Homo sapiens: one gene and its partners. The protein of the gene in region 2 binds, or shares a complex with, the protein of the main gene of each other region. Each region holds a gene or a part of one and is shown on either strand. Other genes may lie near its edges.

Evidence for each region.
Region 1: VIRMA (region 2) and RBM15 share a complex: the UniProt entries of both Homo sapiens proteins name them as parts of the WMM complex.
Region 3: VIRMA (region 2) and CBLL1 share a complex: the UniProt entries of both Homo sapiens proteins name them as parts of the WMM complex.

Annotation. Positions count from the first base shown.
Region 1 is NC_000001.11:110,342,225-110,345,976, reverse strand, and holds part of RBM15 (RNA-binding protein 15), read right to left. Parts: coding exon 3,709-3,752; intron 439-3,708; coding exon 368-438; 3' UTR 328-367; intron 1-327. UniProt on the Homo sapiens protein: RNA-binding protein that acts as a key regulator of N6-methyladenosine (m6A) methylation of RNAs, thereby regulating different processes, such as hematopoietic cell homeostasis, alternative splicing of mRNAs and X chromosome inactivation mediated by Xist RNA.
Region 2 is NC_000008.11:94,490,733-94,494,484, reverse strand, and holds part of VIRMA (protein virilizer homolog), read left to right. Parts: intron 1-1,666; coding exon 1,667-1,833; intron 1,834-2,575; coding exon 2,576-2,907; intron 2,908-3,752. UniProt on the Homo sapiens protein: Associated component of the WMM complex, a complex that mediates N6-methyladenosine (m6A) methylation of RNAs, a modification that plays a role in the efficiency of mRNA splicing and RNA processing.
Region 3 is NC_000007.14:107,741,950-107,745,701, reverse strand, and holds the start of CBLL1 (E3 ubiquitin-protein ligase Hakai), read right to left. Parts: upstream 1,561-3,752; 5' UTR 1,539-1,560; coding exon 1,526-1,538; exon of another isoform or gene 1,393-1,525; coding exon of another isoform or gene 1,260-1,392; exon of another isoform or gene 865-1,259; intron 844-864; exon of another isoform or gene 307-843; intron 1-306. UniProt on the Homo sapiens protein: E3 ubiquitin-protein ligase that mediates ubiquitination of several tyrosine-phosphorylated Src substrates, including CDH1, CTTN and DOK1. Targets CDH1 for endocytosis and degradation.

The DNA of each region.
Region 1 (3,752 bases), on a different chromosome or scaffold from region 2:
AATCTATCAATATATTCTAAATATAACTTAAAAAGTGAAACTATAAAAAGGTAAAGTTTAGTCAAACTTTTGCCCCATCTATTTTCATTCTGTAATTTATATGGAGCAACATAGACTACTCCATTATTGTAGAAAGGGGTCGATACAAAGCCATTTAAAAATCCACCCTCATCTATGTTACCAAAGACAGCAGCCGTTATTTTAATAAAACACTCATACAAATAATTGTTAAACAGCCAAAGAACACTTCAGGAATCTCACTTTTCAACTCTGTTTAAACCATACATATAAAACTCTTCATTCAGCTTAACATTTCACTGTGGTTACCTGAAATCATTTCCTCCCTTTAGGGACACCACTATAACCACTATAACAGGGTCAGCGCCAAGTTTTCTCTCTTCTTGTTCTCATACCTAACTCCTATCTGAAAACCAAACCCTGTGAGAGAGACAGAAAAAAAAATGTCCAGAAATTCTCTCCAAAATTTTTTTCACATAAAAGGTCATTAAGGCCCTCTTCTCAAGAGGATTTCCTAATTCTGTTACCAGAGTTTTTGGTGATTGGTTCCTATATGGACCCAAACTATAGTTCAAGCTGTATATGCATAATGAACAATCTGCCTTAAAAAAGTGGATTTACATTTTTTATTTTTAAAAAAGCATTGTCAGTGAAAACCTGCTAATAGTTTTTAAATAAACCTAAACAATGTCTGACTCTGAAAGCAATAACCAAACACCTGACTCTTATTACTGGACCTAAAATGACCTGTAACTGAGTCAAGAAGGGCCAGAGTATATTTTACCTTCAAAAGGTGACAAATGCTTATAACCAGCCAGGCGATGGACATTTTAAGATGTAATCCTCAAAAGAAAAACTCTATCCACTCTCAGTTGAGAGTCAAAGTACACCAGAAATTTAAAACTTTGTGTGAAAAATTATTTATAGGAATCCCAACAAAATACTTAACCAAAAAGTTAAGCAGAACTATTGGCTAGGTATTGCTTGCTTAATTTTCCATAAAATTTGAAGCTGTGATCTAAAAGTCTTATCTTCACGTTTTTACCAATAATACTTAATAGTCATTAAATGATATCCTGAAGTTTTCTTTCCATTCATTTTAACTGAGTTCCAGAAAAATCAACTACATTAAAATAATTAAAGAAGAAAGATAGAAAAAAATTGGTTGTTACAAAGAACATTCAACGTTGGGATTATTAAATCCTGGCTAATGAGAAGTAGAACCGGTTTTAGACTTTTGCTTTCATTTGAATTCTTAAGGTTTAACTAGATACTTTATGGATATTATGAACCTGCACAAAAGAATGGGCAGTACAAATATGAGGTTCATGTGGACTATGGCACTCTGTAGGTAATGACCAACTAAACATAATTAGTTTTTTATAATACATACATTTAGAAATGGTATCAAGCCATTGTTTCAAAAACACTGAAGCACAAATTGCCCAGACCTAACAAAAGCGGCAATGTCAGGTAAAGATTCAAACAAACATGGAGCAAAAACACAGTACTCTTCTGTACGCTGTCACACTAACAAAAAACAAAAAACAAACAAAAAAAAAGAAAGTAAAAGAAAAGAAATAAAACACACATTTTGGATGACAGTAAAATTAGATGTCATGGACTTCACTCTCCAAAAGAGCAAAATCATTTGTCCAACTATCTCAACAAAAGATATTCAAAAATTAATGGTTAGTGAGTTTATTTAAACTGGAAAAATGTAGCTGGCCACAAATTATACTATGAGCCCACGTATGTAGACTCCACACTTGCATTAGTTTCTGAACAGGTGTCTACTCCAAACCAACCACAGCTTTTTGAAAGCAAGAAGCATCAAAAGTCTTCATTATAGGATTTCAGGTATTTTCCCAAGAGGCACAAGGACCTTCATGCTCATAGCCTAGAACCTTCCTTCTCTCAAAATGGCTAGTTTTTCCAGTTTAAAAACAAACAAACAAAAACCCCCACAAAACCTGCAAACTTAAAAAATTATAGATGCATAGTGAAAACCAAGAGGGATGACACAGCAGTGATGACACTTTTGTGCTGACATGCATTAGACACCTGTCATAATGGAAAATAAAAATTACATGACATTTCCCTGGGTTATTATTGGTGCTATTTCAAAACTACCAGCTTTGATAACAGAAAGAAAACAGTTGGGTTCTGCCAGGCTTCAAGTTAAGTCACTTTCATAGAACAGAAACATGACCATGATCCAGAAGGTCCAAAAGTCTCTAATCATAATTAAATATCAAGGGCCTTAGCTGAAGTCTTCAGCACTTAAATCAAGGGAGAAAAATATACTTACTAATGACCTGACAAATTAGGGGTGGGACAGAGGGGATAGATTAAAAAAAAAAAATCCATTACTGTTAAGCAGCAAAAGTCCTTGTTGAGAACCAGAGGTTGATATCATCTCACCTTTGAAAAAAAAAAAACTGTGAGGCTAAGTTAAATGATCCTGTATTAATTCCGGGTGTCTGGGAAAATAAAACAATTAAAAAAGGTTTTCCTACACTGACATTTCAATTCCGTAGCTGGACAGCAGTGAGAATATTGAACATAAAATTTCCAAGATGTTCAAAACATTTTCAATAATGTAATGTCACTACTGTTTAAATATGAAAATAAAAAGACAAGCAAAATTTTAAAAGAGCATGTCAAAGGCATTTTATGATGACTTTTTAAGAAATTCTGCAATCCAAATATGGCTGATTTAAATGCCCACTGAAATAAAAGATGACTATGAGCCTGCAGACAACTCTTCTTTCTATTATTGAAACCAGAAATTTGAATTGATACAAAAACAAAAACTCATCTTTGATGAAGAACACTTAGTTTCGAAATATGCACGATTAGAACTGTACCTGCTACACCTCTCTGAAAAAGTCAGTAAAAACACCACCACACACCAATAACTGACCAAAGAATTCTGATTTTAAAAGCACCTACTCACTTCTTGCATACTAGTGTAAGCATAAGACATATATGGTTTGTAACATAGTCCTTAATTTTTACTGAACAGTTACTGCTACAAACCAAAAGTGCATATATGGGATACAGAACTCTAGAACAAATGATTTAAAAAATGCATGTTAAAGCAAACTCTCTGGGAATAAACTGTATCTTAAGAAATACTCAAATACCTGATTAAAATAATTACATTGCTATACAATTTACCAGCATATCTTTGAGATCCCTGATCAAATTTCAGTCACACACATTTCTGGTAAAAGAATTATTTACCTACACACCAATCGAGTCATTTTTAGGTGGCTATTACTCTCTTTATATGGTCAGTGGACTCCTTTCTCCAAATTCTGACTTTTCAAAATTTTGGTTTTGTAACTCTGAGGATTTTTTAAGCTCAAGATTAAAAAAAAAACAACTGAATAGAGAAAAAAAATTACTCATAAGGGTGGGAACTCCTAATTAAAGCAAATCTGTCTGCCTGCCTGCTACCTTTAGGGCATCCCTTTCACTTAAAATAATAGCTAAACAAACAAAAAAATAGCTAAACTGTCCTGATTTCTATTTTAAAGACGTTTATAAAAATATAAAAAAGAAAATGCTACAACTAACAACTAAAAAGAAAATTGCATCTGATGCTGTATCCCATTACACATCACAAAACAGGAACCATGTCAAAGTAGTAAATACAAGTTACACATGGACTTTAGGACGCACCACGGACAATGATCATGACCAGGTAATCTTCTTCAGATTTGGCC
Region 2 (3,752 bases):
GAGTAGCTGGGATTACAGGCCTGTGCCACCACGCCTGGCTAATTTTTTTGTATTTTTAGTAGAGACTGGGTTTTACCATGTTGGTCAGGCTGGTCTCAAACTCCTGACCTTGTGATCTGCCTGCCTTGGCCTCCCAGAGTGCTGAGATTACAGGCGTGAGCCACCATGCCCAGCCAAAAAAAAAATTTTTTTTTAATATAGATAAAGTCTCACTCTGTTACCCAGGCTGGTCTCACTCCTAGCCTCAAACAATCCTCTCTCTTTGGCCTCCCAAAGCGATGGGATTACAGGCGTGAGCCACCACATTTGGCCAGAGAATGTAACTTTTTTAAGGGAAAAATCACACTTTTGCATAAGTTCTATGAAGCACTTTGTTTTCTTACTTGACGGGGTATAGAACAGGGAAAAGTATCCCATAAAACAACAGTTTATTCTTGCATTTGGGTTCAAGGAGAGGAATGGTTGTGCTATGGTGTGGCTCTCAGTTTGGAAACTTGTGAAGAATGTATTTGTTATAGTATAGTATGAATGGGAATTGACATTCTTAAACATAATGCTGAATAGGTAAGAGTATAATTAACTATTTAAAATTTATTGCAGTCTGTTCTATGCTTCTCAGAGATGTGGTAAGGCGAATTATTTTAGCCACATCTTATTATACAGTACATTGTTCCTTTTCTTTATCAAAGAAACATACTGGTGTTCATCATATACAATAAAACTAAGAGAATGATTTGCTTCACATTTGTATTTAGTGTGTTGAGGGCTGCTTTTCCTTTTTTAAAAAACCACATACAATTCAATTAAAAGTGCATTAAAAATTAATTTCTTTTTAGTGCAAGCTGTTCAGTGGTTCTTTAAAACTGTCCTCTCCAGTAGAATTTTATGCAATAATGCAAATATTTTGTAGTCTGCCCTGTCCAAAACAGTAGCCTCATGTGCCTGTTGTACAATTGAAATGTGGATGACTAGGGAACTGAATTTTATTTTGATTTAATTTTGATTAATTTAGATAGGCACATGTTGTTAGTGGCTACCACGTTGGGCAGCACAGGTATAAAATATTTGTTAAAAGTTACTAATTTTTTAACTTTAAGTTGAATCACAACTGTCTTGTGATGATAATTGTAACCCTCTGGATTAGAGAAATTTTAGGTATCTTACATTTGATAAATTTGAATAAAACCTAAGTAAACTGAATGTTGATTTCCCTGAAATTAAACTTAGATGGGAACCTCATTAAATGCATAGAGCTTTTGGGAATCTGTGGCACAGAATCTTTTTGTAATAGAAATGTTGACTATATAAGGCTGGCAGAGTATGTTATTTTCAGATTCTTTTTTTGGAAAAGTTCAGGAGATATTACAGTGTTAATTTATATAGACAAATACTGAGTTTCCTGCTCAGGCATCAAAGTTCTCCTAGATTAATAGCCCTGCTTTGAAGAATGCCACACACAAAAAAAGTAGCATTACTAAGGTGTGTGTGTGTGTTTGTTTTTAAACTACCAATGCCATTTGCTTTTTGAAAAGATGAAAGAGGTAGATCTATAATTTATTTCTTATGAGAGGCAAATATAATTTATAGGTAATAAGAATTTCTGTAGTCAAATGTTATGCTAATAATTACATTTAATATGTGTTTTGTTTCATTATTATGACTGCAGGTAAAGGTTGACTTAATTGAACTCTCTGAAAAATGCTGTAGTGACTTTGATTTGCACTCAGAATTAGAGCGCTCATTTTTGTCAGAACCATCATCTCCAGGAAGAACCAAGACTACTAAAGGATTCAAACTTGGGAAGCACAAGCATGAGACCTTTATAACGTCAAGGTAAAATTTATTCCACTGAAGATCTCAAATGTCATCACATAAGCTTATGTATTTTAGTATATTTTAAGATAGACACATGCGGCCGAGCGCGGTGGCTCACGCCTGTAATCCCAGCATTTTGGGAGGCCGAGGTCAGGAGATCGAGACCATTCTGGCTAACATGTTGAAACCCTGTCTCTACTAAAAATAAAAAAAAAAAAATTAGCTGGTCGTGGTGGTGGGTGCCTGTAGTCCCAGCTACTCGGGAGGCTGAGGCAGGAGAATGGTGTGAACCCGGGAGGTGGAGATTGCATTGAGCCGAGATCACGCCACTGCGCTGCAGCCTGGGCGACAGAGCAAGACTCTGTCTCTCAAAAAAAAAAAAAAAGACACATGCTATTAAACTAGAAAGGAAATTAACATAGCATTCGAATCATGAACATTGTTTGAATTTTTTAAATTTAAACGTAATAATTTGGCCAGGATATACCCAGTACATTTGTTATATTGTTTTCTACAAGATTTTGGAAGGTTTGAATAAGAAGTGAACTGGATTATTTTAAAACATTGTTATTCATAACAATGAAATGTGAGTACTTTTCTTAGCTAGTTTGTTATATTATCCCAGAAGTATGATAGATACTTGCAAAGTTAGCAGAATTGGAGTACAAAAAAACTGAAATATAATTTTGGGTATTATAAAGATTATTTTTGCTAGAAACCTGAAAGAAAAATGTTTTATGGCATGTTTTTGTTTTAATAGTGGAAAATCTGAATACATTGAACCTGCCAAAAGAGCTCATGTTGTGCCACCACCAAGAGGAAGGGGCAGGGGAGGATTTGGACAGGGTATACGACCTCATGATATTTTTCGTCAGAGAAAACAGAACACAAGTAGACCACCATCTATGCATGTGGATGACTTTGTTGCTGCTGAAAGTAAAGAAGTGGTTCCTCAAGATGGAATACCTCCACCAAAACGGCCACTCAAAGTATCACAGAAGATTTCTTCCCGTGGTGGGTTTTCAGGCAATAGAGGAGGACGGGGTGCTTTCCACAGTCAGAATAGGTTTTTCACACCACCTGCTTCAAAAGGTAACTAATTAGTATGTATTTTCTAATGGGTTAGAATATTGGAATGTTAAAATATTGAATGAAAGTGATTTAGATGGAAGAGATTCAGATAAACAGTTTTCCTGTTGCTGCAGTTGAGCCACCTCTGGACTAGTGGTACTGTTTGCAGAGTACTCTATTGGATAGAAGAAAGAAACTTTTTTTCAATGAACCTTTCATGCATTGTACTTTTAATAATGAGTTTAGAAGTCTTGGCTAATTATTCCCCCCGGCCTTTTTTTTTTGAGACAAGAGTCTTGCTCTGTCGCCCAGGCTGGGGTGCGGTGGTGTGATCTCAGCTCACTACAAACTCTGCCTCCCTGGTTCAAGTGATTTTCCTGCCTCAGCCTCCCAAGTATTTGGGACTACAGGCATGCACCACAATGCCCAACTAATTTTTGTATTTTTAGTAGAGATGGGTTTTCGCCGTGTTTGCCAGGCTAGTCTCAAACTCCTGACCTCAAGTGATTCACCCCCCTTGGCTTCCCAAAGTGCTGGGATTACAGGCATGAACCACCGTGCTCAGCCTTATTTTCCTTTTTACATTGAGAATTATACATTTTCTGAGTAATACCCTTACATTATTTTCACAATTATACTTAACAGTTTTCTTAAGATTGTTCTGTGCAGTTCACCATTGATCTGCCTAATCTGCTTGTTTTCTAATGTTATATTTAGTCTGTTTGAAATTGTTACAAGATTTTTTTTTTTGGAGACAGAGTTTTGCTCTTCTTGCCCAGGCTGGAGTGCAATGGCGCAATCTCGGCTCACTGCAGCCTCTGCCTCCTGGGTTTAAGCGATTCTCCTGCTTCAACCTCCCGAGTAAC
Region 3 (3,752 bases), on a different chromosome or scaffold from region 2:
TTCTCCTTCATTTTCACCAAACCAACCTTCCCTTCCCGTCTACTGCAATCAGCTATTTTCCATCATTCTTACCTCCCTCTCTTACACCATTCTTCATAGAACAGCCTATTGTATTTTTTAAGAGACTGTGTTCCTCCTCCACTTCTGTTCAATGGCTTCATATTCACTTAAATTAAAATTCAAACGTTTACCACGGCTTTCAATGACCTGAATGATGTGCCTGCTGCCCTCCTTTCCAATCTCACTTCAGGACTCCTACCCTCTGGCTATTAGGAGGCTGCAGCTGACTTCACTGTATCTTCCTACCTCAGTGCCTTCGCACTTGCTGGAAATGCTCTTCCTCTTGCTTTTTTCCCAGGGCTGGGTTCTTCTCATCCATCAGATCTTAGCTTCCACAAAGACCATTCCTAACAACCCTCTCTGAAATTTCGTCCTATGAATCTCTCCACAGCACTCGTTTATTTTCTTCAAAATAATCCGCAAACATTAAAAAAATAATAAATTTAAAAAAAAAGAACGTATTGTCTGTGTTCCTCCATAAAACAGAAGTTCTATCACGGACCTGGTCCGTCTCGTTTACCATTCCATCTTCCATCTCCCGACCTATAGATATCTGCATGTATCTTGCATAAATAAACATACACACCTACATAAATAAACATACACACCTAATTATATAACCAAGTAGATATCTGATGAGTGAGGACAACTCAATACTCAAGAAAAAGCCTTTTTTTCTCTATTTGTGATACGGTCGCTATAAATGTATGGGGCACATAACTCCAAGAGCACTCATTCAATATCCAAGAACCACAAAGAAGCAAAAGCCAGAAAATACATAACAAAGGGTGGAGCCACTCTTACTTGGAGAAAAGTATGAGAATGCCTTGATTTTAAACTCCTCTTTGTAAATACCCTCAAATGATGAGTAAGGACCTCAGCCGAAGCGCGGGGCATGCTTTTGGTTTAGGTAGAAAAACTGCTCCGAGTTTGATTCCAAAAACTCTATCAGACTCCCTTCTTTCACCCCTCTAGTCCATAAAGGATCGGAGAGACGACAGGGGGTGACCACTGCAGCACCCGCCCAAAGCTGACTGAGACAGCAGGAAGTCTCCAACCCATTCTCGCCCGTCCACTCCCAGCGTAAAGAGGATTCCGCGACTCGGAGACCGCAATCTACCCGCCAGTCTCCATAACGTAGGCCAGAGCAGCTGGGCTAAATAAAACAGAGCCGGGGCTCTCCCTTCCCGAAGGCCTACATCGCCCACTGGTCCGGGCTCGGAGCTCAGCAGAACCAGAGTAGGAGCGGTTGTTGCCGGCACGGAGGAGGTAGGTACCACACCAGACGGTAGGCCAGGAAACCGCAGGCCCCTGCCGGGCACAGGAAGGCATCTGTGAGATTTCTTCTCACTGCCACACCCTAGTGTTGTGGGGCGAGCATAATCCCTTTTGCCTGCTGTGCGACCAGCCCCAGGCCGGCCAAGGGGGCTTGGAACCGGGACCCCCACTGCCTCCGCCTCCTTACCAGTGTGATCCATGATTCGGCTCGCAGAGCACAGTGGGAGCGGAAGTCAACCGCGCCGGAGTCGCAGCGAGCGCGTGCGCACTGCCTTCCGGAGGCCGGGAGGCGGAAGTCCAAGCAGGTTGTCCCAATTTTGGCCTGCAAAGACTTCCTTCTCTCGCCTCTACTATCCAACTCCTGTGAGGGACTCAGGCATAGTTCGGGCGGAGGCAGAAAGAGCGAGCGCGCGAAGAACTTCGGTATTGAGGTTGCTAAGGCTTCTCCTCATGTGCTTCAAGAGAAAGTAGCCTTTAACTGTGGAAAGGACACCAGGGGGACCGGGGAAGGGGAGAGCAGTGGTAAAAATGAGCCAGAAGCAGATAAGGCGACTGCCCGCCCCGCGGAGAGCTGCCTTCTGGGACTTGTAGTGCGCGGGGCCCCCGGAGCCGGCTGGCTGCGCAGGCTCGGCCGTTGCGCTGGCCCCACCCCGGCGGGCGGAGTAACGGTTTGGAATCCCCCGGGGTCAGCGAGCGCTTGTTTCCTCCGCCTGGTGTAGCAAAAGTGTAAACACGCGCGCTCCGGAAGGCGCCCTCCAGTGGGAGGTTGCTCAGGGGATGGCGGAGCTGTGAAACTCGGAGCTAGAAGGAAAGTCTCAACGCTTGTCTAAATTTTGCTTTGTCGTGACGAGCTACCTAGACCCACGCAGAGCTAACTTGGTATATGCCCCGGTTCCCATCTCTTAAGTCTCTTTACAGTTGAAACACGTTTATAATGCTTGACTGCCACTCACTTTCTAGGGAGAGCGCTTGTGACGCTACGAACCTCTCGAACACCTGACGACTGGGCGCCAGGGCCGGATGGAGGGTGGAGAGCCAGTGCGGCGCAGCTGCCTCCTCTTAACGGGGACACCTTGCAGGAATGTGCGGAGTGGAGCTAACGGGAGCGGATAGAAACCGAGGGAGGGGAAGAGAGCGCGAAGGCTTGGCCGGAAGGAGAGGTTAAAAAGGAAAGGCCTAAAATGAGGAAGAGAGTTACCACAACAAGCAGTACCTAGTTCCAGTTCTTGGTCCCAGGAGTTTGTGGTTGTTGCTGCTTTCATCTTCCTCAGCCAACACAAAAGGAAAGTGCCAAGGGGCGATTCCTAGGACCTTCAGTGCAGTCTCCACCTTGCGGACTTGGCTCATTTGTGTCCACTCCTTTCTCCAGCCTTTTACACTTGATGCTCTTGGATGAATAGAAAGGAGCACAATTAATGGAAAACACAAGCTTGGGAGTCAAGGGATTTGGGTTCTATTCTTGTCCTCCCTTGGTGACGACATCATTACCTTGGGTTATTCAAGCTTTCAGTGCCAGAGTTCCTATATCAATAAAAGATTATTACATTGACCTCTTAGAGAAATGTTTTCATGGTACTGAATTGCAAATAAAGTATGTGTAGCGATGTGTTATATCTTTGTAGTTGTACGGTATTATTTGTGAATCATGCTGTGATGATCAGTGCGATTTAAGTGCACCATGTTATTTGGTGATTATTTTCCTGAGATCTTGTAAAAGATTTTTCTGCTCTATATATGCAGCTTTATAAACAAGTTTTTAGGTACATTCACAACTAAGGACATTTGTGAATCAAAATTACCCCTGCTTTTTTTAAATGTAAAGTTCTGTATTGCTAGGTGGTTTTCAAGATGCTTTCAGTTTCTGGGATTATTGTTTTGGGCATTGGGGCTTGCCTAACCTTTTTCCCATACCTCCCTATTTTTCTAAATACAGTGTTGATATAGTCAGGCATTTTTCACCAATTTGGGTTTTTTTTTTTTTTTTAAGTTTTCACTTAGAAAGTACTTCTTTTTCATATTAAAAAAATTTTTTTTAGAGATGGGGCAGCCCAAACTGGAACACAATGGCAGAATCATAGCTCACTGCATCCTTGGACTCCCGGGCTCAAGGGGTCCTTATGCCTCAGCCTCCGGAGTAGTTGGGACTACAGATGCTCATCACCACCACTGGCTTTGATTTTTTTGTTCTATCATACTTAGCCTATCAGCTAACGGTTAACCTTCAGATTCATGGAAATCCAGGTTCAGAATAGTATTATTAATGTCTGCTGATGCTAATATTTAAATAATTAGAATTAAAAAGAGCTTTCAAATTGTATTTTATATAATTTAACCTGTAAGTTAGAAGTTTTGTTGGCATTTTATGGTGCATCAAGAAAATTTACTGAGAGAAGATGTACTTACTTTAGATCTGA